Regions from separate parts of the Homo sapiens genome. Here regions 1 and 2 are each reported to be linked to region 3. Evidence: microRNA targets listed by miRTarBase, many of them from high-throughput screens and not tested one by one. Region 3 holds a microRNA gene; each other region holds the end of a gene's coding sequence.

The links. The annotated mature microRNA hsa-miR-4528 reads UCAUUAUAUGUAUGAUCUGGAC and lies in region 3 at 4,086-4,107, opposite strand. An mRNA with a match to its seed (bases 2 to 7 or 8) in the 3' UTR can be bound and repressed. Matches are read on the target gene's strand: a 7mer-m8 pairs with bases 2 to 8, a 7mer-A1 pairs with bases 2 to 7 and ends in A, and an 8mer does both.
Region 1: the mRNA of SESTD1 is a reported target of hsa-miR-4528. Seed matches in the 3' UTR shown: 7mer-A1 at 6,193-6,199, 7mer-m8 at 6,599-6,605, 7mer-m8 at 7,647-7,653, 7mer-A1 at 8,298-8,304, 7mer-m8 at 10,935-10,941 and 7mer-m8 at 10,981-10,987.
Region 2: the mRNA of FBXL3 is a reported target of hsa-miR-4528. Seed matches in the 3' UTR shown: 7mer-m8 at 2,556-2,562.

Annotation. Positions count from the first base shown.
Region 1 is chr2:179,101,805-179,113,501 of GRCh38, reverse strand. SESTD1 (SEC14 and spectrin domain containing 1) reads left to right here. Exons shown (of 18, transcript NM_178123.5): 17 at 657-778; 18 at 3,474-11,697. The coding sequence ends at 3,603. Among named protein-coding and RNA genes, the nearest start is that of CCDC141, 58 kb to the right of the region's middle. RefSeq lists silencers at 5,494-5,694, 6,774-6,974.
Region 2 is chr13:77,002,817-77,009,450 of GRCh38, forward strand. It overlaps FBXL3 (F-box and leucine rich repeat protein 3), which reads right to left. Exons shown (of 5, transcript NM_012158.4): 5 at 2,444-4,972. The coding sequence ends at 4,329. CLN5 (CLN5 lysosomal BMP synthase) reads left to right here. Exons shown (of 4, transcript NM_006493.4): 4 at 1-2,301. Among named protein-coding and RNA genes, the nearest start is that of CLN5, 14 kb to the left of the region's middle. RefSeq lists an enhancer at 6,549-6,618.
Region 3 is chr18:53,229,566-53,241,262 of GRCh38, reverse strand. It overlaps MIR4528 (microRNA 4528), which reads right to left and starts at 4,162; the gene lies at 4,073-4,162. All of the region lies in intron 12 of DCC (DCC netrin 1 receptor), which reads right to left.

The DNA of each region.
Region 1 (11,697 bases), not on the chromosome of region 3:
GGTTTAATTTAAATGGTAATGGTTAGGGTGGAGTGAAGAACAGTATCTCATCAAGGACTATAGAGATTACCATATTTGAATTATAACCTAATCATTTTATGGCAGTTAACTCAAGCCAGCAGATCAGTTGTTAAATATTATCATCTAGCTGAGTTGTCACATCAGTTATTTATTTGTACTCTTTGTTGTTTTTTATTTATATAATTTTTCATTTGTAATGTCTATATGCTCTTTGAGAACACAGTCTATACCTCCTTCACCTTCCAGACTGCTACATAAACATAAACTGTTCAATAAATGGTTACTTAATATAAATGAAAGAATACTTCTTAAGGACAGATTGAACTTATTTTCCAAATAGTAGTCTAGTTATTTTCTTTCTTGGAAATCACCATATTGTTAGTAGGAATTATGTATTTCATTTTGTTTGTTTGAATTTCTTGAAGAATTTTGCCAATAATAGATCAATCTTATATAGTGGTATACCTGAAGATGCTAAGAACAAGAAAATGCCTTTAATCTACCAAATTTGTATGAGCTTGATTCCATTTCTGTGTCTTTCTTTTCTCTCTTTTTTTTTGTGGGGTGGGGTGATCCTCTGAAACTGCAGACCTGTCTGTGTCTCTTGATTGATGTTGCTCTTTTATTTGTTGCAGATTTTGCAGGACTGTCCAGAAGAGCCTGAAGCTATTAATGATGAGGAGCAATTTGATGAAATTGAAGCAGTTGGGAAATCACTTTTGGATAGATTAACTGTTCCAGTAGTTTATCCTGATGGGTATGGGGCATGTTCTTATAATTTTATTTTTTATTGGTGTGGTCTTAAAGTGAAATCATTAAAAGAGGAAATCTATTCTTTAAAAAGCCAAGTAAATTAGGTTTGGTCCACATCTTTAACTCCTACGATGAATTAGTTTAAAATGAAAAGAAATCCACACCTCTTAGCCACAGTAATGGTACTTGCCAACAACAGATGCGTTACTTCTTGACAGCTTGTTGTAGAATGATCATTGACTAGATTAAGACACTGGGTTCTAGCCTTGGCTATGATGGTGGGGAATAGTGTGACTTGGGGCTTCATTCAGGAAAAGGAAGAGGGGACAAGGGATTGATGTTTAGTGAGTTCACAATATATGCCAAGTACCAAGTGAAACATTTCACCTTCATTACTTTTGACCAAAGAGGACCAAACCAGTATGATTATTCCTGATTTACAAATGAAGAAACTGAGGCCCACAGAGATTAAGTAAGGCTCTCAGGATTTCACAGCTTCTAAGAGTTAGCATAAACTTACAATCTCAGGTATGTCTGTGTGGCTCCAAACCCATTCCCTTTGTACTGTGTTATATGGCGTTCTAATTTCTTTATGTGTGAAGGAATGGGGTCCTGATTATCTTACACCTTTCCATTTCAAATAGTGATAAAAATATGAAATAATCTGATGCAAAATAAATGGATCAGGAAAAGAATCAGGAAGAGCTTCAGCCGGGCGTGGTGGCTCACGCCTGTAATCCCAGCAGTTTGGGAGGCCAAAGCGGGCGGATCACAAGGTCAGGAGATGGAGACCATCCTGGCTAACACGGTGAAAACCCATCTCTACTAAAAAGACAAAAAATTAGCTGGGCGTGGTGGCGGGTGCCTGTAGTCCCAGCTACTCGGGAGGCTGAGGCAGGAAAATGGCATGAACCTGGGAGGCGGAGCTTGCAGTGAGCCGAGATCACGCCACTGCGCTCCAGCCTGGGTGACAGAGCAAGACTCCGTCTCAAAAAAAAAAAAAAAAAAGAATCAGGAGGAGCTTCATCCCTGGTGATTTAGACCTGATTCTTACTGAAAATAATTTAGAGATAATCCAGAGGATATTTAATTCAAATGATAGAGTAACCAAACCAGTAAATAAAAATACAAGTACCTTTAACGTTGTGGTATAGTGTGATGAGTCTGTGCACTCTGGAGCCAGAGGTCTCAGCTCTACCACTTACTCACTGTAACACCTTGGGCAAGCCACTTAACCTTTGTGCCTCAATTCCCTCATCTAAAAACTGCCATGTAACACTCATACCTTCCTCAGGTTATGGGGGTGTGGGAATTACCTGAGCTAAATAAGTATAAAGTACTTAAAACAGATCTGACACATAATAAGCACTGCTACTACTGTGCCATGATCTTCCAGTGATTATTTGGGATTGATATTGAAAAGATGGCATTTTATTCCCTTGAAATAATATTATTCATAGTCTATACTTACGTTATCTCAAGCCCCACCTAAACTTGAACAATCAGAGGTAGCCTAAAGTCACCTAAAGTTGTATTACACATCTGCAATAAAAGACAACAAAATTCAGCTAGTAGCAGAATTACAGGCGTGCTTCTGGTTGTTCCATTCCAGGATCCCTTACCCTCCCTGATTCCTACATTTCACAGCCAGTTGTCACACAGTCAGTCTCCTGTTCTACCCATGTCAGCCTAGGAACACCTCTCCCTGGTATGCTTGCTTCAGCTTCTCGTCTGTGTTTCACAGATAGTCCATGTGTCATTTCCTCATCCATCCTTTTAAGATAAAAGAATGTTAGTACTATATATTCAAAGTTCACACCCACCTTTAATATTTTGGAATTGCTGTTTTATTCCACTTTATATTCATATTAAAACTTATGTATATCTCTTTTAGGTATTTTGCTGAATTAAATATTTCCCAAAGTTGTGTGTAGTGTTTTCCATAATTATTAATATAATGGTAATCTGTTTATGCCATGTATAGTTTGTTTGACAGGTTAGACAGATTTCTCTTTTATACCTTCTCCTGGTAAAATAAAAGAGATTGATGGTCTCTCTGGATTCACTGCTCAAAGACCTAGGTTCAAATTCTGGTTTTTCCCTGGGTGACCTTGCTTACATCATTTAACTTGCTAGGCTCCACTTTTCTGATCTGAAAAATAAAGAGATTAACCTGATAATTTCTAAGAAATCTTCCAGCTCTAAAAATATTCTGTGATTCTGAATACAGTATCTTTGAGAGTAGAATAAAATTAATAATTTTATCTGTTAATGTACCAAAAAATGTCATAACATTAAAAAGAATATTTATTTTGCTTGCCAGCTCTATAGACAAGTGGTGTCCCCAGCCGGTAGCACTCAAGTACCTGTATAAATTTTATGTTTGTGCATCCTTCTGGACCCACATATTTCCAGTGTTTCATTGTTCAATTTGTTGCTATTATCATAACTACACATGATATAACCTTTATACCATCAATATATTTTTCTCATCATGTCTTAATGTATTTTATGCCATTTTAAAAAATGTTTTTCCTGCTGAATTTCCTGCTCAAACAGTATGATCACCGATGAACTGATATTTACACATAGGCTATCTCATGTAGATTTTTTATGGTAAATTTTTGCTTCTATTTGTATTCACTGCAGTTAATAGATTTGTATTAATCTGAGGTTTTTCTGTGTGTTTTGATTTTTAGAACCGAACAATATTTTGGGAGTCCAAGTGACATGGCTTCTACTGCAGAAAACATCAGAGACAGGATGAAACTAGTTAATCTCAAAAGGCAGCAGCTGAGACATCCTGAAATGGTGACCACAGAGAGCTAATAGCTACCAGCTACCTACAGATTTGCAGTTCATAATCCCGCATGTTGTCAACATACTACAGCATTAGCCACCACACCTTAAGATGCATTTCACAGCCAAAATAAGTCTCATTTCTTTTCATGACACATTTCTCTTTACATGTTAACACCTTGCTACTACCAAGGCATAATTACTTAACATGCTTCGAGGCTGTAGATTCCAAGTATCTTAAAAGAAGGAACTATAAACATTGCACTGAAAACTTGCTTTAAAGCTTTACCTGACCTGTCAGTTTGTAGACAAACAACTGATAATAAGCTTTGAATGGTGCTAATAAGAGTAGGAATTCTCTCTATTAAAAAGAAAAAAAAAAGTTGCCCTTCCTCCACAGGTGATTTAGTAAATTTAGACAGTAGTTAAACTCTTGTTAGTAGACAGTGGTGTCCTCAAAATTTTACTTTGTAATTCTTCAGAATTGATTATTTTTATTGTGTCAATACAGAGAAAGCCTTTCAGATCTTTGATATATCATAGTCATTAAAAGACCTTTTCCTATTTGTATTGATAATGTATTAAAAGTTGTTTGTGCTTAATAAAAGACTTCTTTAAACATCTTATTTAATTTAGTAGTTACATCCTATTTCCAAACATGAGTGCCTTATTTAAAAGGGCATTCTTAGGACTGTGAGGATGGTTTAATATTTGTTTTTTCATGGTGGTTGCATGTATTTTAGACAGGAAATACATATGTAAGCATGTGTATATAATAAATAAGCATGTTTTATCATGAAAAATTATTGTGAACAATTTAGATCTTTAAGAACTTATTAATAATGGAATACTATTTCTAATTTTTCTCTTTTTCAACTTGAAAAATATTCTCAAAATTATTAACTACCCTGAAGATACTTTGTCTTTAGGGGAGGAGGGCTGAGGAAGAAGGCATACATAATTACTTCAGTGTAATCCTTTATATCAGAGTAATCTTTCAGGAACTAAAATAGCAATTGTTAATAAAATTTAGTTTCTCATTATAGTCTAAAAGCAAAATAAATTCTGAAGTAGTCCAATAACAGAACTGTATGACCCCTTTAGAAATAAAATTTATCATGAAATGCTAGTTCTTTTAAGTTTGTATTAAGTTTAAATGGTAAAATGCATATAATTTAAATTTTATGTATTTTTATTTCAGAACATTTTTTAAAATATTAAAAATTATTTTTTAGTCTTGTAGTCATTACAAAATTATAAACGAGTTGTATACTGGTTCCTTTTTGAGGTCTACAAACATGCTCGTGTATCTTCCAATGCAAAAAAAAAACCCCTCCCTTTTAACCTGCTAGTTTTTCCAGCCTTCTTCACTGACTGACAGACTTCTTGGAGAAATCCACATCCAGTGCCCCTACATCCTCATCACTCACTACTCAGCACCTTGCAGTCTGGTTTTACACAGCACTCTACTGAAACTGTTCTTTTGAAAGTCAGCAATGGCCTCCCAGTTACCAAACTGAATGGTTTTTTTCTCCGTCTGAATCCCTTACCCTTTTCTCTGCAACATTTACACCATTGAGCAACCTTTCCTAGACAGTGTCTCCTTCCTTGAAGATGCTATCCTCTGAAATAACTGTGAGTACAGTCGCATAACCCTAATTTAAGATGTGCCTGCTGAACATGTGCTCTCTCAGATCCTGTCCTCAGAATGCTTTTGGCTCTTTTCTCGGTATCTCATCCTTAGAGTTTTTATTTTATACCAATGTTCTGGATTACATACCTGGTCCAGAAATCTAGACTTGTACTTCTTTTTAATTGCCTAGTTGACATTTCAACCTTGATTAAAGATTGACAATATTTATCACCTTTTCCTCCTGGAACAATTTAGGTTAATGGTGCAGCCTTTTTTCCTAGTCAAACATGCCAGGAAGTTCAGGGCAAAGTTCAACTGCTCCCTCTTGTCTTATGTGGTCACTGCTTCTGAGAACATCCAGGAAGTTCTTTCTATACTTGAATCATCTTCTCAGTCCTTTGGGGCTTTACTGCTATGAGTATGAACTTTTGTGATTATTTATTTCAGTCTTCATGATGGTGCTATCACATTCTACAGTTGTTTATGTCTGTACCCAGTAAGCTCTTTTGAGGGAAGGAATCTTGTCTTCTCCTATTCCCAGTCTTGCTCATGCATAACAGATGCCCATTCCTCCTAAATATGAATGCTGTATTATAGGCATTAGTAATAATCCCTGTTACATTGCAGTCTGAAGTATGTTTTAAACATACTTTTTTAAAGTTAGAACTGACTTACAAGTGAATCTATTCTTAGATTCTTAGATACTAACTACTTTAGATATTTAGTTATACTCAATAACTAAATATCAATACTCAATATCTGTTTCTTCTGAATTTCAGAGTAGTTAGAATGTTTTTCTTAAGACTTTGCTAGAAAGGAACTGGTTTGTTAGTAATTCTGCCATCAACTCATGGAGTTATAATTGCCAAATGAGTTAATTTTTATATACCTTAAGCTATCTTGCCTACAAAAAGTAAAATAAGGCAGGATTCATAAATGTTACTTGTAAATTGAGTGTTTCACATGAGGCCAAGTATGATTTTAACATAATGAATATCATTGCTCCTCATCTGTAAATTTGCTGCTGCTTTCATATGTGTATCTGTACATAGAGTTATGAATGAAAATCCAGTAATGCCCTAAAGCAACTTTCTTCCATAGGGTCAAAGCTCACTTAAGGTAAACGTGTGAAAAAAGTGACTGCAGTGTGTTTGAAACCACAAGCTGTTTCTATGTCATAAATTAACATCAGCTTGCAAGTCTCTGAAAGAACCACTCATTTGTAATTGGTATATATGTCACAACCTCCCACATTCCTTTAGCCCATCTCAGGGAATTATTGAAACGCTGGCAGGGTTAGTTTCATTTTGTTTTGGTTTTTTTGGGTTTTTTTGTTTGTTTGAGGATTTTTTTTTTCTTTTATCATTTGTTTGCTCCTGTGTAAGCTTAATATATAATGGCAGTTTGGCATCTGTTCTTCGCACATGTCTAACCCAGCAGAGTTATGCAAAAATGATGACTTCATTTTAGGTCAAATTGGCTTTGTTCCCAGTCCTCATTGTTGGTCACTTTGTTCAGTTCTGGTGACTCATTGGTGATGTTGATGAAACTGCTCAGCCTGCCAGCTGGGATATTGATGGCAGGTCTAGGCTTCATTGTTAGGTAGAAGATTGAATACTTCTCACTTTATACAAATTTACATTGGCTATTGCTCCCATGTGTTAGCTAGTCTTAACATGTTTGTTATTTCGTTATCTTATTAGCTGACATACGGAGTGGTATTATTAGTGTCGTACTCCTTAGCGTGAGCATGACAATTAAGTTACCTTACTAACAGTGATGAGTAAACCATACTCTGATCTAAACCCATTGTTACCAATGATGTGATTATGAAGTTAGCTGAATCTATGGTCTACATTTGAAGAAATAGTTCAGAATTCTCTACTACATTGTAAGTTACTTGCTAATAGAGATTGGGCATTATTATGTACTACTCCCCTTCTCACATCCTACCCAAAGTACACAAGGCCGTAGTAAAATACTGTTGCTACTAAAAACTAAACATACTGTGGTTGCTAATGTCCTTTACATCTTCAGCCTATAGGGAATGGTACAGGCAGAAACAAGCACCATTAAGTATATTATCATCAGTAGTGAGATCTGTATGATTAGGATATCTTTGCTTAAGCCCCCAAAGGAAAAATTCTCTAGCATTAAAAACATGGCTGGAACATAGCTAAGCAGTTAACCTAATTAGTAGACTTATTGTTAACGTTCAGTCCTAAAAATGAAAAGCTTCAGTTGGGAGTAGAAAATATACTATGCTGGTATATAGAGCAACAAATACCCTGATGAGATAAAATGAAGTAGAAACTTACCATTTGACATTATTTGACTTTCATACATGCTACTGAAAAGTCTAGGTTTAGCTAAGAAGCATAAATAATGGCAGTACTTGTAGAGGAAAGAACATACCAGCTAAAACAAGAACTGTAATGAATATAATGGAAAGTGTTTGGAGCTTGAATACTTGGCTTCAAAAATCTGGCTTTGCCATTTACTGTTAAAAAAATATCTGAGAATTTATCTCAGGCTGTAAAACAGAGAAGTCATACCAATTTCAAGAATAAAATATGATATAAAGAATTGTTGAAGCCAAAATATCCAGAAATAAACAGAATGGAAGGTATCATTGCTATAATTATCTTTTCAGAATAAAAAATAGAGTATTCTTTATCCTTTCTGTTGTCTCACATGACAAGCATGGGATGGTGAGGAAATGGCATATTGCCTATGTTCGCCGCCCCACCCCCTTAGTTCCACCACCCCTTCACCGTCACCCCCAGTTCACTAGTGTATCAGAATGCATCTTCAGAATTACACACTGAAGATACAAAAGGTCCAGTTGGTAAGCTCATCAGTAAATAACAAGGCTTTGAAATCTGACAAATTAGCTATTTTTGTAGGAAGATAATAGAACAGCAAGATGGAAGACAAGTGATGAGTATCATCTGTTTTGAGGTTGACAAGGTGTGACATAACCCTGTTAATAGACACAAGTAAAAGAAAATCATACTAGGATTGGATATTAGTGAGCGAGCACCGACCAGTAGAAACAACAACAGCATAAATCTGTTATTTAAGTATCCCAATAATGAGGTTAAAAAAAAAAAAAAAACAGAACAAAGCATGAAAAGACCACAATTAGTGCTGGCTATGCTTAGAGAGGAGCAGTCTCTTGGTAAACTCAGGCAGTGATGATGAACAGAAAATGGCCGACTGATACTGTAATAGAGGCATAGAACTAAGGACACTCCGTGAGCTGGCATAAATACAGGGGAGTCTTTAAGACTGAAAAAAGTTCATGGGTATGACACTTAATATGACTCAACATTACTGCAGAATTTTAAAGCAAACATGAAAGCTTGAGAATAAACACTAGTCCCTCTACTTCAAGAAAAAGCAGAACCTGTACTAGAACATGAAGAACTTAGAGATCAAAAGACAGCCAGAACTATGATGAAATATTTTGAAAGCAGTGGGCACATTTTTAAAGATTTTTTTTGGAGAACTTTATGAGGCTGTATGTATAATTCCTATATGTAATTTTATAGGAATTCTTAACTGAAAGTAGTTATCAACTGCTACTTATCAGGAGCAGTGTTATTAGGGATTTTAAGTTAGGCATGTAGAAAACTTTCTGACAAAAGGGCTATTGAACTCCAGCCAGTTCCCAGTGAATCTCCAGGAGGCACCTTAGAAGTCTTCACAAGCTGAATACCATGTCTTTAGGGTGTCCAAATGCTTCTGTCTTGGGGGAGAGATGAGAGATGACTGGGTGCCTTTCCACTCAGAACACAGTAGACCACTCACTATTTATGACCAAGCCTCACTTCTTTTCTATTACAGTTACAGATTCTTTTTTAGTCTGGAAGTTAGGGTAAATAAAATTTGTATGTTTGATTTTTCTCTTAGGAATGTTTTCTCATCTTAACTCTTATGTTATCTTTATGGCCAACAGATTTGCTCAGAATATATCATCAAAATATATGTATTGTATTTTGTAAAGGTGAAAGGATCGAAATACCACTTTGACAGTTATAAACCAGAGTAGATTTGAGAACTGATTGCTCACATCACACTTACGAATAGTCTCAGAAGCCTTTAAGAGAAACTTACTTCTCAATGGACACTTAGAAGAATTTGATGATCTTACTGTCATAAAATCAGTAATGAAATTCTCAGCAAAACTATTTGGTAAACATTGCACCCTGTATTTTTACCCAACATCTTGTTATGAAAATTATCAAATACATTAAAAAGTTAAAATAATTTTATAGTGTACTCACTACCTAGATGCTAATTAGCATTACCTATGCTTGCTTTGTCACATATCCATTCATCATTTCATATTATTATTTGATGCATTTTAAATTGCATATCATTAACTAGAGTTCATTGTTGGCTTTTTTACATAAAATTAGCATGCAATGAAGTGCATAGAAATATGTGTTCACTGAGGTTTGGCAAATGCATATAGTGCTATGGAAATAGGAAACGTTATCACCACCCTAGAAAGTTTCCACACTGCCCTTTCCAGTCAATTCCTGTCCCTACTTGACCCTCAAAGGCAACCACTGTTCCTTTTTCTACCATAAGATTTTTCTGTTCTAAAACTTTATATAAATAGAGTCACGCAACATGTACGCTTTTCTACAAGGCTTCATTTTTTTATTGCTGTTCTTTTTTATTGCTGAGTAGTATTCCACTGTATGACAATATTACAGTTTGTTTTCTTAATTTCCTATTATTGATAGATACCTGGGCTGTTTCCAGGATTGGCCATTATAAATAAAGCTGCTATGACCATTCTTACGTAAGTCTTTGTGAACATAGGTTTTCATTTCTTTGCAGTAAATTCCTTGGATTAGAATTGCTGGGTCACAGGGTAGTTTTAAAAGAAACTGCCATACCTTTTTCCAGTTCAGTTTTATTGTGCCCTGTATTTTGTATTTTGATGTGCATAAAGGTGTAAACTATTTTTATGATCCATATTGAAGTATTAGAAGAAGTGAGTTTGGAATAACAATGGCATTGTTCATGGTCAAGGATGACAATTGGAACTATCTGAGGAAAGCAAAGACCTGTCTGCCCCAGACAGCTCCTCAAGGGGTTCCTATGCCTGAAACTTTAGCAATATTTCACTCCTTGAAAGGTTAAAGCCCAACCATGGTGATATGTTAGCTAGAAGAAACAGCACTGGTTTGTTTATGTTACTAACTTTCACCACCCGTTTTCAGTAGGTAAAGTAAGACTGATCATTGAACAGAAAAGGTTATTTCTGTGATGAGGTTGAGGGGGTAGTGGAAAGCATGTATTGCTAGTAAGCCCCAGGTACAGCTATGTGAGAGAGAGTCACCTGGACAGGGAAGTCCCCCAAATGGTGGCCAGAAGAGCAGAAAACGGGGTGGGAAAAATTCTACCTCACAGTTTTGCATAGGGGATAGCTATGCTTTTACGGGACATTTTAGCGTTTAAAAATATTTTCAATATTGTCTCTTTATTCAATACCACCCAGCTGTAGTTTTTTCACACTCTGATGACTCTCTTATCCACTCTTTTACCTCTCCCAGCTGTTCTATTACATACAGCATTCACCTGTATTAGTCTATAGAATTATAATCATCTGTGTGTTTCTAATGCTCATTTTCAAAAATATGTATGGTTTATTCGATTTTTCCTATTAAAATTTTAAGGGCTGGGAAATTTGGCTTCTACTGTAAATCCTTATAATGTTCCACACATTGTAAATATGCAATAAAAATGTTAACAACTATAATGGCAGCAGGTTTTGGTATGTATTTCTTTGATATATTGTCACTTTGGACAATAAGTTTGATTTCTGTTAATAAAAGTTGTTCATAAAATCTAGGGAGAATTAAGTCACACTGGTCTCTATAAGATAATCTGATGAATTCTGCATCTTTGAATCAATTTGAGTTATTTTTTGTAAAGGTTTAAATTGTTTCTAACAGTGTTACCTAAAACCTTTCATTAAATCAAAAATGTAACTTGTATATTCTGAAATAACCTGGAGTCTTAGAAGACAGAGGCTTCTGCTTCCCTCTCCCGTGACCCCAACAATCCCTTCCCACAGGCTTGGCACAGAAGTTCAGTGCTTTCTCTACGTCTCATGTTGTCAGAAATAGGTTCTCACCATAATAGACAGTGGTGAAATTTCCATTGTTCCTACTGAGAAGTCCATTTTTAAGGCATCAAAGGTGAATGTGTATTTAGGGATGGAGGAGGCATATTACAACAAAGCTGTATTTAAAATAACACAATCATATCATGCTATAAACAATAGCAGTTCCAGAATGGCTACTAAGGATTTTGGACTGCCAGACTTTGGAAATTGGCAAGCCTTATACCTTGTCCAATGAAGTTAAGTACATTTGAGTGACAGTTCAACATACAAGCAAAAAAATATATAGAAGACATTGTACATTTGTTATTAATGGACATGTTTACTTTACATGTTAGAGTATCCA
Region 2 (6,634 bases), not on the chromosome of region 3:
CAAACTCAGGAAATTGCTCTGGAAAAACTACAGGATTTTGGATTTCCAGAACTGCCTTGAAGAGACAAAGATTCTTGTACCAAGTTTTGGTCAACTGCAAATCAAAGAACTTGGTTATGCAGGGAAAACAAATGAGGATATCTGTACCTGGAACTTTTAAACAAGATTCTAATAGTTATGTGAAAAAAGCATTCAAGATTTTTGAGTAGGCACAGTGGCTTACGCCTGTAATCCTATCACTTTGCGAAACTGAGGTGGTGGAAGGATCACTGAAGGTCGGGAGTTCAAGACCAGCCTGGCCAATGTGGTGAAACCCCGTTTCTCCTAAAATTAAAAAAAAAAAAAAAAAGCTAGGGGTGGTGGTCCATGCCTGTAATCCCAGCTACACGTGAGGCTAAGGCAGGAGAATCACTTGAACCCAGGAGGCAGAGGTTGCAGTGAGCTGAGATGGCGCCACTGCACTCCAGCCTGGGCGACAGAGCGAGACTCCGTCTCAAAAAAAAAGCATTCAAGATTTTTCATTGTTCCTAAGAATCTTAATTAAATGAAGACAGAAAGCATCATAAAGTCAGGTAACTACAGCACAGACAGCATTAACATTTACAAAAGTATTTCTTAAGAATTAAACCTGTCAGCTCTACTTACAAGATGTAGAGCTTTCAGGTGAAGATGATTCAAGAACATGCTTTCAAAATAGTAGTTGAGAAACCAAAACATAGCCACGCAGAAATCTGCCAATTAAGTTTTGCTGCCCTTTGAGCAATATGACTTAATGTGATTTACTTTAATTATAACTTAAGTACAACTTAAATGCAGTTTCTATTTTGCTATTGTTATAGATGTAGGCTGGGTGCGGTGGCTTATGCCTGTAATCCTAACACATACTTTGGGAGGCCAAGGTGGACGGATCACTTGAGGTCAGGAGTTCGAGACCAGCCTGGCCAACATGGTGAAACCCCGTCTCTACTGAAAATACAAAAATTAGCTGGTTGTGGTGGAGCATGCCTGTAGTCCCAGCTACTTGGGAGGCTGAGGCAGGAGAATCACTTGAATCCAGGAGGTGGAGGTTCCCACGAGCCAAGATCGCACCACTGCACTCCAGCCTGGCAACAGAGTGAGACTCCGTCTCAAAAAAATGTTGTAGATGTATAAAATTTATACATTTTTAGTCTGACTAGGGCTTTAGAGTGAATATATCTCCTCATTAATCTGGCACAAAATTAGTTAAGTAAGTATACCCACAAAGTGTCATCTAATATATTGTTGCATGTAGAGGAAAACACAGTGAAGAAACCTACTAACTTTATTTGGAACCCTCAATATTGGTGGCTCCTTAAAAATTGGAGAAAAAAATCAAGTCTTAGGAAGTCTTATCCAGTTTTATGGTCTGCTGTGGTGGCACTTAATGAATTACCTGGAATTATAGTTCCTGTAAGATGTTTTATTTTTTAAATAGTTGGCAGGCTATACAAAGAGTGATGTTCCAAAACTACACACATGCTTTTTCCCTGTTCACAAAGGCAAACAGGCTGGCCAAAGTGTTTCCAGCATCTTCGTCATATTTACCCTTTATTATCCAAGTGGTTTCCTGCTCTTCAAACCTTCCTTTCAAAATTTTGTCTCCTACTTAAAACAAGTTAGGATTATTTATCCTTTTATTGGACTGATTATTCTAAGGATAAGCTCTTACTTCACTTTCGGAGTAAAAGGCTTTGTGCCCTTTTTAAAGTTGGGTGTCAGCAAGCAGCTGGAATTTTCCTGCCTGGTAAAATTAAAACCAGCCCCACAAACTGGGGTTGGAGTCTGTGCAAAGCTCATTACTATCTATGTGTGGGGTAGAAATTATAGTGTGTTAAAGGACCTAGTGTAAAAAAAAAAAATTTTAAAGGACCTAGTGGAGGCTTGAACCTTCTTCACATGAACGTCTTCCTTTCAGCCTAAAGTTCTTAAAATGCACTAAATTGACTTAATCTTCAATCATACCTATTTTTTCTGATATGGTTACAACAGCCCAAATTACCAAGATAAGTTGAAAGCCAGTAAAACAATGAAAATAATTTCAATAGTTGAAAAACTATTCTAATTTATATAAAGACATTTATCTCTAAAAAGACTGGTTGGGTTCAAGGACCCTTAAAGACTGATTCTATGTCTAAATAATCTGTTTTATAAGTTCTCATTCTGAATGCAGAAAGAACCTATTATTTTCTGTATAAAAATTTAAAAATTTATATTTCATGGTAGGTTTTAAATTTCCTATTTCTTTAGGCATCAGAGCTTATTTCAAGAATAGATTCCATGAGCCTAACCTTGTATCTTCAAAAAGGCGAGTCTATCATAAACATTGTTTAATATTAAATATTATATCCATCAAATATGGATTTGAAACATTTTTAAGTTTAAAGTCAAATGTTTGTGTAGTTTTTAAAAAGTAAAATACAACAGCATTAGTAACTTTTTATTCTCAAAGTGATAAAAGCATTTAACATATACTTTACAGTATAAACAAATTAAGTACTATGCATTTTGCTTATAAAGTGACAAAGTATTTTAAGCATTATATAATTCAATTTGTACAAAAAGTAAATTTCCAAATACAAGCTTTGGTTAGTAGAACTGATTATGTACTGTCAAATCCATTTTTCCAAAGTTGTTCAAGGAAAAACAACAACTTGACTAGCACAGGTAATTCTTGTACAATCAGAGCTTTTTACTATTTAGAAGGAGGGGATATATTACTATAATTGCTGTTAATTTTCGAATCTAGATAAGCCTTTTTTCTTCTCATATGTTGCTGTAGGAGAGCATATCATCACTTTTGGAAAGCAAAAATTATGTAGAAAATCACCTTTTGCTTTATTCTTAAGAAGGCCATCCGTTTTAAAAGTAGATCTAAGACTGTTAGCTTCCTCAACCACTGAGACACAATCTAAAAGTCACACCACTGAAAAGAGCCGCTTTAAGAATTAATGTATTCCACCGGGGTTAAATCATTTCTGATTTCCCTCAGGAGGGTAGTAATATCTACTAGCACTAGTGCCCAGCATCAAAGTTTATATCATCTTTTAAAACTCAACATTTTATAGACTCTACAATGCATGGATTACTTTTATTCATATGAAAGTAATATAAAATGTTACCTAACTTAAATAATATAAAATATCGGTTTAACCAAATTAACAATCACAAAACTGCAGACATTTTTCTATTAAAGTTTTCCAGTTCACTGAGCAATATTTACTGAAAAATATGATTATGAACTTAAATATGTCCTCTTTAAAATTTGCTGTTTATGCTAGACTGTACAATGGTGCTCCCTTTATGATTTTTAAAAATTTTACTTACATAACTATGTAATTCCAAAATAGAAAAGTGAGTGAGCCATCACTAAAATTTACTGGAAACTAATATTCTTTCATGGAAACAACTGATAAACATTTTAAAGTTCTATATTTATTTAAATTTGGCTTTTTAAAATAGGTAAGCTTTTCATTTCAATTATTGTTTAATACTTTAAAGCTAGTTTAAACAAAGATAAAACCAAGGAGAACTAGTAAAGCATTCCTTACTTTACATACAGTGCCTCAAGTGCCACATACATAATAACATATCACAAAAGAATGTATATGGTTTAGCAGATTACAGAGCAAACCTAAAAGTTTATACAAAGCTAAACACTGCCTCCCTTCTGTTCCATTTATTGTCTTTTAATTTGATCTTGGCTCTGTATTATCCTTCTATAATACCACTGTGTGACATCTATCAGTCTTCTAAGTGTTCTGATTACTTATATATACCTTTTTCTTTAAACAGCTTTGTAACATTTGAGAACATTCATCCAATCTTTTCCATTAGATATGATATATTCATTTTTCTCACAAAATGCTCACTTTCCTGAGCTATATTAAACACCTTATAACAGGTGTATGTGTAACTGAAGACCCTAAAATGTCAAGTTTACATTTTTTTTTAAATGCATAGAGAATATAACATTTCAGAAAACCTATTAGTACTTCTTGGATATTATAACATATAGGTTTTGTTTCCTTTAGACTGTAAACTGTTTAATACGTATAACTGGTTATTTCACATCCGAACCACATTAAAAAAAATTCGGAGATATGACTGCTATTACACTAAGGAAACAAGTGGAATTTTCTGACCAAAACTCATTCATGGGTCTTCCGATAAACAATCTTTACATATACTGACTGAAGATATCAAATTTCTGTGCCACAAAATAGTAGAATTATATCAGAACTACAGCAAATAAAACTTTAATTATAATACATTTGCTTGAAATTAAGGTGCTATTCATCATGCAGTTTTTACCAAGTGGGCATCATGTCGGGAAACCACACCCTACCAAGATGCTTGGACACTTCCCAGTGAATCTGCTCCAAACTATACTTTTGGTCAGGAATTAGTACTTCTTCCATAATGGATAATTGAGATAGGCGGCCACCACACATCTTCACAAACTCAACAAAGGCACTACATGAGACTTCACATTCCCCTAGTCCAATAGCTGACAAATTTTTGCAACGTTCTGCAATGCGAATTAACTCTTCATCAAGTGGCCGTAATCCATTTGCACACACTACTAGTTCAACCAGTCTAGGGCATGTCATTCCCACACGGCCAAGCACATCTTTGCTTACTGATCTCCCAAAGTACAGATGGGTGGCAGGTATTTCATAGCGAAAGAAGGGGTCAAATTCTTCTTCATATAAAAAAAAATACATCACTAAGTTCACTTTGGGTGAATGTCTGATGAAAGCATCCCAGCTACTCTTCTGAATAGTATGGAAGTGTGTCTGTCCAGGATTCTCACTGACTACATCAATGCGCAAATGTTCTAATCGAACATGTTTTTCAGAAGACAATGCAAGTAACAACTCATCACTCAATAAGTGGTAGTTCAGGGCTAGTTCTCTTAAGCCGTGACACTGATCAGCCACACAAAGGATACCTTGAAAGAAAAAAAAAATTATTTGCAAGTTTTTGTAAAAGTTTATCTGTTGAAAAATTCAATCAAGTACATGTCCCACAAAAGTTTGTCACAGTTCCCTTACCACAAAACTATATAATTTAAAATGTGCATAGTTGAATTAGAAGGGAAGTAACAAACATTTAAAATCTATTACTAATTTTGTCTACAAGAAAATGAAACCAATTCTAAATCCCATCTATTAAAAAGAAATAAAACTCAGTTAACTCTGTCATTTAAAAAATACACCATCACTAAGGTTAGGGCATTCCAGTAATGCACAGACAGTGCCATATTTTTAAAAAGTTATTACTAACACTAAACTTATAGGTTAGGTAATTACAGGACCACTGTGACGGAGGCCAAAGGACATTTTTTGAAGTTCAAAACCTAATCCTAATAAAAACAGAGTAAGATAGAACCATATAAAACTATGAATTAGGTAATGAAAGAAAACATTTACAAACTAAAGATTCTATCAAATGATCAAGTCTAATTGCTAATAGCATATAAGCAGCTTATTAAACTTATAAGAAAAAATACCAAGATATCACTAAGTATGTCAAAAATAACTACTCAATTCACATTAATGGAAATATTCATTATGACTTTCGAAGCTCTAACATACCTAGAAAGCAGTTCCCTTAGATGATTCCCTATACTTAGGGTGCCATGCTTTATAACTTACCAAAACTATCATCCTAGCAACAGATGACATTGCAAAGGTCAATGTTTGATCTCTCTGTAAGAGTTCTGTTTTTGTTTTCAGTCAGTCTCACCCTGTAGCCCAGGCTGGAGTGCAGTGGTGTGATCTCAGCTCACTGCAGCCTCTGCCTCCCGGGTTCAAGCAATTCTCTTGCCTCAGCCTCCTGAGTAGCTGGGACCACAGGCGTATGCCACCACGCCTGGCTAATTTTTGTATTTTTGCTGGAGACAGGGTTTCACCATGTTGGCCAGGATAGTATCGAACTCCGGACCTCAAGTGATCCACCCATCTTGGCCTCCCAAAGTGCTGGGATTACAGATGTGAGCCACTGCACCCGGCCTACTATAAGAATTCTACCCCAAAGAGGCACCTTATATTACCTGGTAAGTTACCCATTCAATCCATTTCTTCCTTATGTTTAGAAACAGGGATAGGAACAAGAAAACATACACCGTATTTTCATCTATTTATTGTTACAAGTATGATGTGCCAGGTACTAGATGTTATCCCACAAATAATTTTAAAAATCTGGAAAAGTATTATTTCTACTTTGAAGTGGAGACAGCTAGCTAAAAATAGCAAAGCTGCAATACAAACACAGGCTAAGTGACTCTTATGTCCATGCACTTAACTACTGCTTCAGAAATGACAAGACAGAGGCCACCAATAAGCCATAGCTTTATAACAGTGGGAAAAGATAGGCATTAGAATTATCAGAAGAGATAAACTGAATTACCAGAATGAGTCACCAGAAAAGAGAGTAATGTCTCAGTATTCAGCAACCACAAAGTTTCTGTTTTCCGCAAAGTAGGTATATACTTTATTTTTGTTTTGAGATGGAGTCTCGCTCTGCCACCCAGGATGGAGTACAGGGGTGTGATCTTGGCTCACTGCAACCTCCGCCTCCCTGGTTTAAGCAATTCTCCTGCCTCGGCCTA
Region 3 (11,697 bases):
TGAAGCAGATCAGATTTCTCCAGCTTAGCCTAGCCCTTGACAGTCACAAATTTAAGATACCAAGCCACCTTCTCAAGCCCCACCTTTAGACTTCACCTTACACCTCCTCATCTCTCTGCCTTTGATCACTCTCATCCATTCTCCTGGAATAACATTACTTCCCAGCCTCAGGGTCAAATTGTTTATGGGAACTAAGGTCCTTTCAGAAGCTCAAAGATCTCGGTTACCAAGAAGGTAAGTAATATTGCTGAGGACTTTCCAACTCCCCAGCACATTTCAGTGGCTCTTCTGCACCAAGAGCATAGGCTAGTGCCCTAACAATACTTCTATGCATTTAAACAATATGCAAACAGTACAACAAGACTCTCTAAAAGTGAAAATGTTATCTGTAACTATTACAAATATCTGAAAAATGGATCAACTAAATGCAATCTTTTTAAAAATAGAATCTGACAAGCCAGTTTGTGAGTGTAGCCATAGCCTCAGAGAAAAATGGAAATATTAAATGATAAAAATGATAATGACAACCTCTTCTAGGTGCTGTGCATTTAGAGGCATTATCTTATTTAGTCCCAACGACAATCTCATGAGAGTTGGAACCTAGTATTAGTCTCATTTTACAGATAAGGGAAACAATGGCTAGATTGTTAATTAGCTATAAAAAGTCAAGCAAATGAAAAGAGGGACTTAATATTGAGTCTGACACCAAGACCTTTTATGCCTTGAAGATCACTTTTTAATACATTGTCTACAAATATTCCTACCTGGATAACAGGGGACAGCTCCTTCTGATCCTTCCAGTGGTAAACCCAGGATTGGTAGCTTTTATTCCTCTGCTTTTCATATATAAAATTTATTGTAACTATGACAATCACAGAGATGATTGTTGATCCCACAATTCTTGATAAGACATAAGATGAATTGAGGCAGCCTCAGAAATGGGAAAATATTCAGTGTAAGGAGTAAAGATGGAAGCTTGCTATTGACTGTTTTTGTGGCTTTTTCATTTATTTTTAAATATGAGCATGTCTATAAGTTTATCTGATTTTTCTTCCCCTTTTAAAAACATCTCCAGAAAAAAATCTAGTCTAATATAAAAGTAATTATAACTTTCATAGTAATTATAACTTTCATATTTATTCTTCTGGAAAACAGTAGAGGCATGAGTGCTTTTGATTGCATATTACACATTGGGGAAAAAGTGTTTTGTTGTTTTTTTTTTTTTTTTTTTTTTTTAACTCTAGAACTAGAATTTTGAATGTCTAAATGTTTTTTTATATTTTCTCACCATTCTCCTCTAACAAAAATAAAAAGCATTGCCTTCGTTGCTCTGCCCTTGTTCTGATTAAAATGTGTATTATGCTACCATTCTACTTATGTAGCACTTTTACATGCTAAGATAAAAGGCATGAATTATATTATCAGCCCTTGGTTATTCAAAATAAAATAATTTTTTGAATAGGCCATGTAAAATACTGTATATCATTTTGAACACCCTTGAATTGAAACCAAGAAAAATTGGAGGTCTTTTCCCACAATTCTCTGATTCCTGGGATCAAATATTAAGCATTCAAAACATTTGAATTCTTCTACTCAAGGTAGAAAATCAGTGAGGTTTTGTTTGACATTTTCAAATATTTTTCTTTGTGTTCATGTCAAAAACACCAATCAAAGGGCCCAGTGATGTAAGCCCCTGTGCACCTTTCTCTGGGTGCGTTCTCCCTCATTTCTGTCTCTGCTCCGTGAATTCACTCACCTATCAGCACAACCATCATCTCTCATCCTGGCCTTTTGTGACATGAGCTATCACTAAAGAGCTTAGAGCAGAGAATATGATTAACTGGAAACAAGGAAGAAAACTGAAGTAACTCATGGTGCAGTGACTCTGTGGTTTGAAAAACCCCAAAATGATCTACCTGGGAGGAACCATAAAGGGTTATTTCATCTTTTCTATTCTTTAGGTTTTTCTTCCCTCCAGTTTCTGTAACTATAAAATGGAGAACAGTAATGGACTTTGCTGGAGTTTTTTTTTTTTCATTTTTATTTTTTATTTATTTATTTTTATTATTATTATATTTTAAGTTCTAGGGTACATGTGCACAACGTGCAGGTTAGTTACATATGTATACACGTGCCATGTTGGTGTGCTGCACCCATTAATTCGTCACTTACATTAGGTATATCTCCTAATGCTATCCCTCCCCCCTCCCCCCACTCCACAACAGGCCCCGGTGTGTGATGTCCCCCTTCCTGTGTCCAGGTGTTCTCATTGCTCAATTCCCACCTATGAGTGAGAACATGCGATGTTTGGTTTTTTGTCCTTGCGATAGTTTGCTGGAGTTTTGTGAAGGTTAAATAATACTAGGTATGGCTAATTTACATGACACATAACAGACATTGTTCCTTTCAATAAATATTAGCTGTCTGATTGCTCTGGGTTCACTTTATGTAGGAAAATTTACCCATACAATGAGGTTCTCCTCTCCTCTTAGTATACCTGTATGACAGCATTTTTCAATTTCACTTTTACATGTTTGGCTGCTTGTCTCAGTCCTCTAGGCTCTGAGTTCCTTAGTTGCAATGATACTTCTCATACTTCTCATATATCTTTACATTTTCAGTGTTTACTAGTATTATAAGGCTTCTAAGTAAAGGGACCCCTGAAATGTGTGAGAGCTTGGACACATAAGGCTTATAAGAGCTTGGACACAAAAAGCTTATAAGAAAAAGGGACCCCTGAAATGTGTGAGTGCTTGGACAAATATCAATATCTCTGATTCTTTGTTTCTTCATCTTAAATGAAAATGGAAATATTTCAATTCTGTGTATATCATAAAACTTTATAAGGATTAATATGCATAACTAAAAGATTAATGTCTCATTGTGAACATATTTCTAAAATAGTTACAGTCTTATGGAACACAACTACCATATGTTAATGTAACATCTATCATCAATAAAGTGTTCACATTGAATAATTCTAGGAGTCATGATTCACCTAGAACCCAACACTACGTATCAGATAATAAATTAGAATATCTATTGGAAGAGTAGAATCAAGTGCAATTCTCCAAAATGTAATGCATTTCTGTGTGTCATAAGTAAAAACAGCTGTCATGAAGGAAATAATCAGCAACATATAGTAGATAAATTCAAGGAATATAAGAAACAAATTGCTTTGAACCCCTGACATCTACAAAGTTTATCCTGTGAAGGTCAAGCACAGTGCTCCATGAGATTCTTTTAGAAAGTAATAGGTTTAAAGGTTTCAAACAAATTGTGTTCTTAGGTTTTCTTGGTAAGTAATAGATTTGAAGATTAAATCTGATTCTGTGCTAAGGTCTTTGTTTTCAGGGGTGGCAAGATGATAATCTAGTTGTTTATTTAAATTGATTTTGTGACTAACACATAATTTCACAACTAGTAATGCTTAATGCCAGCAGCTCGGTTTGTCAGACATTTTTTGATGAAATAAATGTTATTTTTATTTAACTTTGTATACTCAATAATGATTTTGTAAAACAATGGGAATTATAATTTGATTTCTTTCACAAGAACTCACTTATAAATAATGTACTTTTAGATGCATTTTTTTATGGAAGGTATACTGAGTTGTCACAGAATTATTAAAACTACGCTCTAAATTGTATGTTTAGTCAGTGTGACAACTGACTAGGTTAATATAGCAAACCTGTCACTAGCTGAAAATCCAGCTGTCAACCACAAAGCAGGCACCCTGCATGAGCACTCAATATGACTACTGATTGGCTGTGACCATCAAAGATGAAAGGAATTCGAGTTAAATATTTTGAACAAATTACTTCTCTAACCCTTACTTTGTTCATCCACTAATGGAGACAATAACTACTTCACAGAATTTTTGTGAAAATTAAATTCAAATATGCCAAGATATATAAAACACTTTGCAGAATACTGGCAGATAGCAGGTACCCCAAAAACATTTAGCCTTTTTTTCTATTTTATCTCAGTCACCCACACACCCACATATTTAGCATAATGTTCTTCTATAGGCTTTGCATTGTTTAACTGTGAAGGACAATCTAATGAGCTAGATTCTACTGGGTGTCCAGATCATACATATAATGATCTCATCATACATATAATGATCATATATATAAAGATCTGTACTCTCAGTAGAATATATAATATATATATATTTGTGGAGAGTAACGGTTTTAAACATATATAAATAGTTACATTCCATTTTGGAAAAAAAAGAACCATATTAGAGTACTTAATACTGCTTGATTTCAAGATGAGCTATAAAGATATAGCAAATAAGACCACATGGTACTACCATAGGGATAAACAAATAGATCAATGGAACAGAATAAGATCCAGAAATAGACACAAATGTGCATACATATATGGTCAACTGTTTTCAAGAAAGGCACTAAATAATTCAATGAGGAAAGAGAACTCTTTTAATAAATGGTGCCGACAAAACTGGATACCTATATAAATAACCTTGGCCCCTTCCTTAATCTATACACAAAAATTAATTCAAGGTGTATCACAGACCTAAATGTAAAAGCTAGTAAAACATAGAAGAATATCTTTATACCTTGGGGTAAACAAAACTTTCTTAAGTAGATCATAAAAGGTCAAAATCAATAACTCTGACTTTAACAAAATAAAAACAGCATCTGCTCATCAAAAGACAGCATTAAAAAAGTAAAAAGGTAAGCCGCCAATTTGTATAAAATACTAACAATACCAAAGCCTCCAACTTACAGAGGTAAGCCTCCAATTTGTAGAAAATGTTAACAATACCAAAATATAATTAAAATGTTTTCCTAAAATGTGTAAAGAATTTCTACACATTGATAATTTAGAAGATTAACAATTCAACCTAAAGTAATGTGCAAAAAAGAATCTTCAAATGGTCAAATATATGAAAAAATATTCAACACTTTTAGTTATTAGAGAAATACAAATTAAAGCCACAAGGTGATGTAACTGTATACCTATTAGATTTGCTAAAATTAAGATGTCAACAAATTCCATGTGTTGGTTGGGATTGGACAACTGGAATTTCCATATACCTCTGTTGCGAATACAAAATGTTATAATCATTTAGGAAAATTATTTCTAATTAAGTAAGACATACATCTAAATTCTGATTCAGTAGTTTTACTTCTAAATATCTACACGAGACAAAGTTTATGTCCAGTAAAGCCTTTTCCAACAGTGTGGCAGCAGTTTTATCTGTAATATCCTTGAAATGGAAACAATCCAATATTCATCAAAGATGCTTTGGTGTATCCATTCAATGGAATTATACTTAACAAAAAATTTACCATAATATTAAATACCATGCATGGATCTCAGAAACATGTCAAAATAAGCCAGACACCAAAGGACAAATATTGTGTAATTCCATTTGTTTGAAGTGCTTGGAATAGGCAAATTCAGAGACAGAAAGTAGAATAGTGGTTACCAGTTTCTTAGGGAAGAGGGGAACGGCGATGTATTGTTAAAGAGGTGTAGAGTTTCTGTTTGAGATGATGAAAAAGTTCTGGAGATGGATGATGTTGATGGTTACAAAACTATGAATATACTTAACGTCAATGAATTGTACACTTAAAAACAGTTGAAATGGTAAATGTTGTGTTATGTATATTTTACTACATGTACAAAAGATAGCCAAATACCAGGTCAAAAGTGCACAGGTGGGAGAGTCCATAATTTTTTTCTGCTCTAACTGATACTTTCATAGTTTTCTCTGTCAATCTTTCCAGAAACAAACAAAAAAGAATGCTTACTTGGAAGACAAGAATCTGCAGAAAGAAATAGTGACTTATTTTTCTAGGAGTTCTTTCTTCTTGTAACTCTACTCAGACAAAAGATAAATAATTCCAAGCATCACATGTCATTCTAAAGGGTTTAAATTTTCATTAAAGTGAGACAGCAGACAGGCTTCCATGGAAATAATGTGAATTTGTGCCCACATCCAGCAGGGATAATGAGTCTTTTAATTATAAGTTATTGGGCCAAATTCAAAAAGACATGATGGGCAGGCATTAGGTAACTAAATAAAAAATAGCAATTGCATTTCTCCCCTTGCATTTTAAAGGGACAACACCTGAGAACCTCTACTTGATATTCCTTACACAATGAACCCTGTGTCATGAAGTCATTTGAAATAATGACATTTGATGCTGTGTATCCAATAACTTTAAATAACATCATTAACATTAGAATGAAAAGAATGGAAATTGGCTATCTAGAGGGCACCCATCCTCATGAGGTTTTTCAAACAAAAATTATATGACTGTCCGTTTGTGACACATATTTGTCTTGTGTAAGTGATAAAATGAATATATTTACAAGGAGGAAGAGAAGAAGAAAGGAACAAACCATCTAGTCATCAAAAGCTTCAGCTTTAAATCAATAATTACAGAACAAATTGTTACTTCTTCAAGAGATCTAGCTATTAAAAGGCATTATCACTTCACTGAGAATCCACATGTGTGTTCCTCAGTGTTTTCTTTTGATATAATCCAGAGTAAGCACTGGTTTAGGTAAAAAACTGGAGTCAGATTTCAGGTTTGTCACTAAATTGCCAAGGGATTTGGATGTGCCTATATTTTACACAGTCTTGAAAATGAGGGGCTTGGGTGATTTTATAACTAATTTTCTTTTAAACACGTGACCCTAAGTCACTGTTTAAGAGAGTGAGGGTTTTCACAGGGCCTACTTATGACTTGTGTGAGACACTGGGCCAGGGGTTGAGTGATATCTGGGGTCTTGAAGCAGAAAAAAACCTGACTGGCCAATATTTTATTTATTTATTTATTTATTTTTTTAATTTGAGACAGGGTCTTACTCTATCGCCCAGGCTGGAGTGCAGTGGTGTGATCTTACGCACTGCAACCTCTGCCTCCTGGGTTCAAGCGATTCTCCTGGCTCAGCCTCCCGAGTAGCTGGAACTACAGGTGACCAACACCACGCCCGGCTAATTTTTGTATTTTTTATTTCATTTTATTTTGAGATGGAGTTTCACTCTTGTTGCCTAGGCTGGAGTGCGATGGTGCGATTTCAGTTCACTGCAACCTCCGCCTCCCAGGTTCAAGCGATTCTCCTGCCTCAGCCTCCAGAGTAGCTGGGATTACAGGCATGCCTCACCATGCCCAGATAATTTTGTATTTTTAGTAGAGATGGTGTTTCTCCATGTTGGTCAGGCTGGTCTCGAACTCCCAACCTCAGGTGATCTGCCCTCCTCGGCCTCCCAAAGTGCTGGGACTACAGGCATGAGCCACTGCGCCTGGTCCTAATTTTTGTATTTTTAGTAGTGACAAGGTTTCACCATGTTGGCCAGGCTGATATAAAACTCCTGACCGCAGGTGATCCACCCAACTCGGCCTCCCAAAGTGCTGGGATTACAGGCTTGAGCCACTGTACCTGGCCTGGCCAATACATTTTGAGATGAGAAAGAGTGACAAACATATTTGCTTCATTCCTGTATCTCACTTTTGGTTCGAGCCTTGAACTATGCCACATAAAAAAGGTGTTTATAACAATCATGAAGTTATATAAGCAGTGGTTCACATGCTTGGTGAATTATTCACAAAGGTAACTCGGAAGAGTTTTAAGTAAAATCAGATTATAGTTTAGCAGAATAAACAGGAAGTCAAGCAGGAAAATCATTTTTCTGTTTATCACTCATTTTTGTTATGGCTTTGAATGAAAATATGATAAATATGTTGACCTTGAAACCGCAGGAAATAAGATGAAAAGGAAACCTGGAATAATTACCTAAAAAAATCGGCTTCAAATATTCTAGGGAAAAAGTGTATAGAAAGACTGAAAACTGTTTCTTGATATGATTTTAGTTTGAATGAAAATGAGCTAGATCTATCCCTGCATATTACTTGACCTTTTGGATATAGGCAAAAAAATGTGTATTTTGGGGTAAAGCAGAATATTTGAATTATTTTTGTGAATTACATGAAGAAATAGGGAGGACACTACAGGTGAATTGGATTAATAACTGGTATGATGACACATGTAAAGAACGGGAGAACGTCAACATGTAGAAAGGTTTAGTGGCTTTTTTAGGGTCATTCATATCTATGCTTTTCAGCCATTATAGGATTTTCTCCCATAGCACTGATTAGCTTGACCTTAAGAACAGGCAAGGTAGTTCATCAGGACTATATGAGATAAATGATGATAGTATAAAGGCAAAAATAAAATAAATCTTGAGGGTGCAGAATATGGTTAGTCACTTGATCAACCACAAGGTCCAGTTTTAAAAGGAGAGTGAGAAAATAAGAATAATAATACCTGGGGAAAAAAAAAAAAGAAAGGAGCAAGTTGAAAGTGTTTATGAGGCTTATCAGCTAATCAGTTTATTGAGAGCGGAGACATTAGAGATTCAGATGAACACAGGGGCTGTCATATAGGATGGTTTTGAAGTTTAAGGTTTTTAGTGAAAGTCGCTTCGAGGAGAAGAAAACAAGATTAAAATATGGCCTGGGTATGGTGGATGAAATAAAGTGGTAGAGAAGATTGCTGGAATGGTGTGTCAAATAATTGAGCCACAGAATTAGCATTTTCGATTTAGCCGGACACATTCCAGGTGTACAACTAACCTTCATTTATTGATGTTGAATAAGTGCATGAAGACACAAGGTACCCTGAGAGGTTGTAGCAGTGGGGTTAATGTAAGATAAAATGTAACAAAGATACATGAAGAGGTCTTGCATGTGAGTCAGACAGAGCCTGGCATGAAGAGAATGAAAGACATGCAGTTTGTCAGCATCATTCATGAAATACTTATAGGTTTTCATGGAAAATCAGATCCATAATAAGTCCATAAGATAATGTGACCACCCACAACATCAATGTGATTGTAGCACATCTGAATAATAATGCTGTGCTTAAGATGAGAGAGGTACTCTTAAGGGATGTCTAATAGTCACATGACATTTGCAACTATGCAGAGGAGGATGACAAGTCAAGTAGGGAGCTGACAAGCAAAGAGAAATATTTGTAGAAACTAAGAATATTTTACTTGGAGAAGAGAAGCATTGGTGGAGAGAAGGGGGAGGGGGGCCCTTGACAGACATCCCCAAATATTAAAAGTCATGCCGCAAGAGAAAGTCACTAAACTCATGAGATGTATTTATAGTCCCAGGGGAAACAATTATGACAAATGAGCAGACGTTATAGAGGGACAGAACTTTGAATATACATTTCTGAAAGTTAGACCTACATATGACAAAAATGGTTGCTTAAAGACAAAAATATCCCTGTCATTAGAAAAGTTCAAGCATGAGCTTGAAGATGACGTAAAAGGACTCAAACGTCAAATGAACTATTGGAAAATCAGACTTTTATCAGTCTTTTGGCACATATTTTGAGTCAGCAAAATAAGAATTACAGTCTAAAGATACATTTTTGGTGATTCTGTTTTTCTGTTGTGCATGCGATAAGAAGAGGCTGAAGACTGATAAAGGTAGAATGAATTAAAATTGTTAATACTGGAAAATTAATCTAACACACTGAGGATTAAATAGAATTTGTGTAACACCCACACAGTTAAAAGTTTCAATCCAATTAATACTCCCTTAAATATTATTTTCTGGGCTCTGAAAATGAGTCATCAAATGTAAAACCCAGACCTGAAATAAGTCTAGATTAACTTATTTATGAATTAATCATAAAAACAGCCTCCTCAAACTCATTATATCATTGGTCACAATCTTCTGCAAAGACAGGCAAAGAATAGCTGATTGCTTGCATTAGGTGAAGCTAGTATGTGCTGCATTGTTCAGACACTTGCTTTATTATCTATTTTACACATACAGATGTTGATAGTTATAATAAGCATAAATTTATTTTATCATTTGCTTATTATGACAGGTACCATTTTATGTATTTTATGATCATTTATGACTTTTCATCTAAAGAGCCAAGAGCACATTCAGAAATATATTTCCCAAGAATAGTACCATAACACAAATGTTTGCTTAGTTTGAACCGAATCTGATGTGACAGCATGATAGATACTTCTTCCTTTGGCTAAAAAGCATCACTTCCCATCAATGTCAGTTCCTTACAAGACCCACATGTCATAGAGTAAGTATATTTTCTTATTGTAACCTCCGACTCCTGTTGTGTGTCCCTCTGTCAAGCCATATCCCATAGGAAACTTCTTGACATCTGCGTCCTCCTCAGTCTGGAGGAAAAAATCAATTCTAAGATCAAAACTACATTCCTGGAAAATAGTCTCAGAAAAAAAAACACCAATTTTATTAAAGAAAATAATAGGCAAATCTACATATCTGCATAATACCCCAAGGAAAAGTAGACTTCAAACTGCATGATGTCACAGACTTACATCCTTCCTTCACATACATATTTCCAAAAAATCACTGAATTTACTATCAACTATAGAGAAAAATCAATCATACAGGTGAATGATTGAAACACAGTTTTCATCTAGTATTCTAAATTGAATCTCCATCTATGGAATTTGTAAATACTTTATAACTTTGAAGTGAAAATTCTTAAGGCCAGCATTTGCTCCCTTTACATATAATTCAAAGTAAGGGAAAAAATTACTAACTGGTCTAATTAGCCTATTATACTACAATTTAGACACCTTACTTTGATGATTTAAATTTCAGATTATTTAAAAATAAGGCTTCTTAAGGAATATCAGTATCTAATTTTTAAACAATAGTTACATAATAGCTGTTGACTAAATGAATCAAGAAAATTAAATTCATGAATAAATAGCTGAATGACAGACACAAGACTATACACATTATTATTTAAAATGATACGCTGGAGTCCCTTAAGGAAAGAGAACTTTGTTTTCTAACAAACATTAAAAAATTCTGATCATTTCATTTTTGAAAGGCTGAAATAATCCATCACTAATGAAATTATTTATATTCATTGCAAAGATATTATTAAAGGCACTGTGCAATTCTTCTACTTTGGGGGTATATCAAATTATATGTTAGTGTTACAGATAAAAGCATAGTTTATAGACAGTAAGCAGGATAAATGTCTATAATTAAATTTGCCAAAGTAAATGCTAAATGTGGTACTGTTGTGCAAGATGATCACTTGTATTTCACAGAAGGTGCAGAGGTGTCTCTCATTCATCAATAACAATGAAGATGGAGGAACCATTTTCTGAGCTAAACAATAAAGATGTAATCTGGAGATACTTATACACAGATTATACAGCCTCATCTTTGTAATCATCTTCATGTAAAGGAGCTTGCAAAACAAGATAGCCAGGTAGAATAATTATTTGGATCTAGTCTATTGTTATTTTTCCAAGGAATTGGAAGAAAATAAAGGCTTATAGTCTCATAACCAAATTTGTAAGATGTATGTGTTCATGCTAAAGAATTTGACCTTTCTTTTGATTTCTTCTTTTTACCTTTGCATGTTCACAGCCACAATATAATTAAGTCAGCTTTTTTCCTTTCTTTAAACTACATTTTTTTTTCCTGTGGTGTCCTAGAGCCTACAGAGGGAATTGAGAGAGATGCTTAGAAACTGGCAATCCTAGCATCCGCCCTTCTCTAGAAGTAAGCTATTAAATGTTCAAAATCTGGCTCTGTAGGTGAAAAAATCTTTAATTTGTAGCATTTGCTGAGTTCTGTGGTGCAAATACACCGAAGAAGGCCAATTTCAAGCTGCCAGCAT